Linked DNA regions of Homo sapiens: region 2 is linked to region 1. The links come from fine-mapping of genetic effects on gene expression. A gene starts in region 1. The other region holds a variant in brackets. All regions are shown on one strand. Distances are from middle to middle.

Region 1 (2,907 bases):
GACCCTCCCACTTCGGCCTCCCAAAGTGCTGTGATTACAGGCATGAGCCACCAAGCCCAGAGACTTTTCTTTCTTTCTTTCTTTTTTTTTTTTGAGACGGAGTCTCACTTTGTTGCCCAGGCTGGAGTGCACTGACATGATCTCAGCTCACTGCAAGGTCTGCCTCCCAGGTTCATTCCAGTCTCCTGCCTCAGCCTCCCGAGTAGCTGGGACTACAGGTGCCCGCCACCACGCCCGGCTAATTTTTGGTGTTTTTTTTTTTAGTAGAGACGGGGTTTCACCGTATTAGCCAGGATGGTCTCCATCTCCTGACCTCGTAGTACGCCCGCCTCGGCCTCCCAAAGTGCTGGGATTACAGGCGTGAGCCACCGCGCCCGGCCTCCCAGAGACTTTTCTATCTGATTACTTTTCAAACACATTCTAGAGCATCCTAGAACTTGTCCTTTCCTAGTTCAGTTTATTACTTTCTGCTCATGCTCCAGGAGAGAATATAGCTTTTAGTCATTTAGTCTCTATGTGGTCCTTCCTTGATTTTCTAAGGGTCCTGAGTCTGTGGTCCCAGAAATAGACAAAAACATGTGCAGGGCATCATAGACTCTTGCTAGGCTGGAAGTAGAGTTCCTCTCTTGTAGCCAATGTCCTCTTCTCCTCACCCTTCCACTCCCGAAATACACACACTCAATATACAGTGGCCAGCACATCTGTTTTATGGGACCAAGAAGCTGAATCCTAAAGGTTAATGAAGGAAAGATACGCAGAAAGTCCAGCACTTTCCTAATTCAGCAGCACACAGGTTTTCACGTCTAATATTTAATTTACGTAATTTATTTTCAATCTCAATTTAATTGCTTTTCTTGAAAAGATGTTTGGGACAAGGTCAACAATGAGGGAGGAATGTCACCGGGTCGGGATCTGGAAACAATCAGCTCTGTATGGTTTTAAAGATGAAGCGCCAAGATCTTAAGGAACCTGAATTCCTGGTGAGCAATCAAGTTCTTTAATCGGCCCCCAGCAGGATGTCAACGGCGTAAAAGACAAAAAGAAAATCTATTTTAAAAGATAGATTTTGTGTTTTTAGATTAATTTTTAAAAAGCGAACCCACCACAAACTTCCCAGTTTTTAAAGAAAAGGCCTCTCCCACCGCAGAGCCCTCCCGAACCATGGGACAGCTCAGCGGCAGCGTCCCACCGGCTGCCCGCAACCGGTGCCGCGAGCTCGGAGTGCAGCGCTGGGATCTCGCGTGCTCCGGGACAGCGGGCTCCTTGAGCGCCGCGGGGCGGGGCGTGGGGCAAGACCCGCCGGCCGCTCCCTTCCCCACAGCGCTTAGAGAAGCAGCGAGCGCCTTTCCTCCTGTCCCGGAGTCCTAGCCTGGCCCGAGCTACCTCCAGGGCGCCCGCTGCTGCGGTGGCAGGAAGTCCCCGGGAACTACAAATCGAGGCATGCTGGGAACATTCTCCCGCTCCTCCCAGGAAATGTCCTTTGTCCAGCCCTACAGGAAGCCCCAGTGAGGAGTCAGCCGGGCAGCCAGCCAGCGAGCCAGCCAGCCAGCCAGCCAGCCAGCCAGCCAACCAGCCAGCCAGCGGGCCACCCAGCGGCCGCTGCAGCCGCCGCCGCCGCACAAGGGCAGACGCGCTGCGGTGCGGGGCTCGGGCCGGGGCGCTCGGTGCCCTAGCTCCTCGCCGCGCCAGCCGCCTCGCAGGTAGGAGCGTGGCTGTGGCTGGGCTCAACCGCCTCCCGGGGATGGGGCTGATCGGGACCAGACCCGACCGCTGCGGGGATGGGGTGTGTGTTCGAGTGCGGTGGCGGAACGGCTGGGCGAAGTTGTGCCTCGTAAAGTGGACCGTTGTCCGCTCCCCTGGGGCGCAGGGCCCCGGGCTTATGGGGTGCTCTCGCGCCCCCAAAGCCAGGACTGAGCTCCCTCAGGGGTATGTGGCGAGGGGCGGGGAGGAGGAGGCTGAGACTTGAGGGAGGAGACAGCGATGCAAGAGGGAATAGGACCGTCCCGCCGACCACCGAAGGGGGCATCAGAGACCCTCGGAGAAACCAAGCCCAGGGAGGAGCTTGGAAGGCAAGGAGAAGGTGAAGGGCTTTGTGTGCAGCTGTGGACCTTGACGGACTGCGCTCCCCTTGCCTTGTCTGTTCGTGCCTCCAGCCCCACTGGGGCTAAGGGAGGGTGGGGGGCTCCGAGAAGGGCAGGAGAGAGGCGGCAGGTCATCTTGGGTCCTAGTGAATGAAATGTGTGCCTCCCTTTTCCTCTCTTCTCCATTCTAGCCCACTCAAATGAGCGGCTTTGGGGCTGCCATCAGACCGGGCAAATGACACAATAAGGACGGGTGGGTGGAGAGATGGGCAGCAGCTCGCAGCCCAAGAGGGGTGGCCGTCTAGCCCCGGGAGGCATTCCAACCACACGTGTCCATGTAGGTAGGTGGTGGGGTGGTGGGCAAAGCTGGAACCTGCACCTCGCGGGGATGCCGAGGCTCAGGATTGTGCATGGAGGCACGGGTGAGGCGCGTGTTGGGAGGAGTGGGTGAGTAAAAGGTTGAGGGGGAGCAGCGACACAGAGGCGCTGAGTGTACCTTATGGCCAATGTACATTATGGCCATGCATCGGGAACTGACTACCACTTCCTCTGGGACTTTCCACGATTTTCCTTTTTCCTAACCGCCTCCCCCAACCGCCCCCGCCCTGCCTCCCCCACAGGAGTGAATCACCCACCCCTTACTACATGAACCCTGGGCTGAATTGAAGTTGGTGATGTATCCCTGTCCTTGTAGTGGGCATGTTTGTCCTTAACCTGTAGGATGACACCAATACTCCGCATCCCCTACTGCGTTACCCTCCTCCCTCAAGACTGAGCGTCTGGTAAATGCGGTTGGATAATGGCTAGCGAGTTAAATGTCTTTGAG
Region 2 (2,907 bases), 29 kb after region 1:
GGTAATCTTACTGCTTTGTGGGTTTCTTTCCATGTACATCTACCTCTTCCAGCTGTTTTAAGTTTTCTCAAGTCTGTGCCTATGAAATCTCATCCAACTTTTGATTATTCATGGATTGATTATCCGCTTTTTTTTTGCTTTTTTGCTGCCATTGCTATGCCTGGTCTCGTCTGCATCAAATATACTACATATCAGCAACTTTAGAGAATGGGTTCAACAGGGAGTGGAGAGTGAAGCTAATGTAAAATAGTTTAGTGGCAGTGGGAATCTTTGGACTTCATTTACCTCTCTCATTATTTCTATTACCATGGATAAAAAAGTCAGCTGCTACGTTGATATCCCTTCTATGAGCACATTCTTAGCAGAAGAAAACAATCCAACTACCAACACCCGACTCTATTGGTGCATTTAAAATGTGATTCCATTTTTTCTTACAATTCTTCAGGGAACTTACCTGCATTAAGTGAGGTTAAATGCATTCAGGAGGTTGTTTGTTTCTTCTATCTAGTTTTAGAATAATATTTCTTCGGCAAACCCTGCTAACTGCGGTTCACCCTTGAAAACGTTAATCTGAGGACTTTTTCCACCAACTCATTAATGATGGTGGAAGCAAGTGTATTATTTGTTTCCTGGAGAATTTGATGAAGAGCAGTCTTCCTCTGCTGCCCTTTACTAAGCAAAACCTGGAGCAATTTAAATAGGCTAAATGGTTTTGATTAAATCTTGAGCTCCGAGTTGGAAGGAGAAAATGAGAAGTTAACCCCTTGAGCCATGTGGTCTCTTTACAATCAAGAGACTGTACATATGTGAAAAAATACAAATTAAGGACCTGTGTTCATAGACAATCTAAACTGTGTTTCTGAAGTTTGTGCACATTTTTCTTCACTGTAATGTTATTTTACAGCTGTTTGTTAAAATAGTGAATAATTTAATGATCCTAAAAGTAACAGGTTTCGTGTGAGTGTGCTTGTATACGTGAGATTTGCCTTATTTTCAGGTTGTTTTATTTAACGATGGTTCCTTGGACAGCATTCTGGTGTTCAGCAACCAATATGGAATATTTGTCATTAAATCCATATCAGTCTTTTACCATGTCATTCTTCTTTGCCACACATTAAATGTCACTCAGCTCTATCTATGGAAGCTATGTTCTTGTAGAACAAGGGTTGACAAACTACTAAATCTGCCCTGCATATTTTTGTACATAAAGTTGCATTAGAATACAGTCATACCCATACAGGCACATTTGCATATTATCTGTGCTACTTCACCCTGAATTTGCCGTGAGTGGGCCTCTGCCCACATTCCAATTAGAAAAACTGTACCTGGTCAACCTGGAATTCTTGAGGTTTGATTAGTTTAAGCTACAGATTTTTTTAACCTTGGAGAGCTTTTTGGATTGTTTGCCTTTTAAATGAAGAGAGCAATTAATTGGAGTGAGGCCTAAGTTCCTGTAGTTTTATAGAAACTCCCCAGGTGATTTTAATGAGCAAACAGGGTTGAGAACTCTGTAGGACCAATTAGAGACCCCCCATTCTTTCTTGGGAATTACAGTAAGTATAATAATACATAAGGCTCAAATCCTCTCCTCCGCTGGGGGGTATGGAGGCAAAGGGCAGTGCAAGGTGCATCAGGCTTTGTCTGCTCCTGGTAGGCCTCCTGTCACACAACTGCTCCAAATAGTGAAGACAA[T/C]ATCATAAGTAAGAGCCAGGAAAAGTGCTTGTCTTGGCTGTCCATCAGATGACAATGGAATAGGTGTGGAAGGCTGCTGCTGGCCTTCACCGTCTTCACCACTCATAGTCAGCCTTCCTCCGCTCCTCTCAGATCTTTATTCCCCCAACTCAGCTCACAACAAAGCAAAACCCCAGGCATGACTCCTTTTCTCAGCTGCCCTTGGCAATCACATAATTTCCATCCTCTCTGCCCCTGGTGGGAGGGGAGGAGCACACCTGGCCAGCCTCCAGCATGAATTGCCTAGTGCTTGCTCCTCTGTCTCCCTATCACAGCTGCAAGTACCCTGTAGATTGTAGTTTTCTGCTGCTAGACTGGTTTCAAGGTCATCTCTGCTAACCCAAAGCACATTCCAATGGGTTTCAGTTTCTTGCTGCTCCTGTGGGATCCAGGGCACTGTTCACAATGCTGTCTGCATCCAGCTGGCGCCCTGTCTCATTCCAGCAGCTGGGAATGCTCAGCTTTGGAAGCCAATGAGGTGGGTGGCAAGGTGTTCCATATACCATGTTGCCCTGTGTTTTTAAGGAGGTTGAAAAAGGTGTCAGTGTACGTGCAATGTTTAAATTGGCATTCCCACACACGTATTTGAAGGATTTCCAACCTGAGTAAAGAACTGCCAGACGCCAGTTCCTGGAGACCAGGGATTCACTGGAAGCAGTTCCATGCATTCTTTTTATTCACTGAAGACACTCCACTGAGATGCTTTTCTGAAAGCATCAAGGGCTGAGGTAGGGAGTGGTTCTGCCTGGGTGTTCTGATACCATCTGTGTATGACTGGCCTTCCCCAGGCCCCAAGGCTGTGACTCATTAAGAGCAGAGACCCTGAGAAGTTCACCCCTCAGCTGAGTGGGCAAGTGCCAGGCATAGTGCTCAATGCTAGAGAGACAGATATGAGAGAGGTAGAGATGCTTACACATTCCAACACCATTTAAAGGTGAAGGTGAAGGCCTATTTTGTTTTCTGCCTGCCCAACCTGCTTGGGCGAATTATTTTGCCAACTATAAGTCTGACTTTAAGGATTTGGCCCCTGGGGCTGCAAGGGATGGGAGGTGGACCGGGGGGAACTTCATGTCAAGGCTTCACATGTTATGCTAGGGCAAGATGATACATTCAGCAAAGGCTCAGCATTAAGCAGATTCTCTGCCAAGGACTCTGCAACTATAAGTCAGAGTCCCC

The links.
Region 2: its variant is fine-mapped to the expression of ZNF697 in whole blood (INTERVAL, PIP 0.96).

Annotation. Positions count from the first base shown.
Region 1 is chr1:119,646,864-119,649,770 of GRCh38, reverse strand. ZNF697 (zinc finger protein 697) reads left to right here and starts at 1,505. Exons shown (of 3, transcript NM_001080470.2): 1 at 1,505-2,080. It overlaps LOC124904389 (a long non-coding RNA gene), which reads right to left and starts at 1,455. Exons shown (of 2, transcript XR_007066506.1): 1 at 1,384-1,455; 2 at 795-1,047. RefSeq lists enhancers at 1,428-1,497, 669-1,509 and silencers at 1,568-1,627, 1,925-2,088.
Region 2 is chr1:119,617,604-119,620,510 of GRCh38, reverse strand. It overlaps ZNF697 (zinc finger protein 697), which reads left to right. Exons shown (of 3, transcript NM_001080470.2): 3 at 1-1,134. Among named protein-coding and RNA genes, the nearest start is that of LINC00622, 20 kb to the right of the region's middle. RefSeq lists a silencer at 2,879-2,907. The variant T/C (reference allele first, on the strand shown) is at 1,693.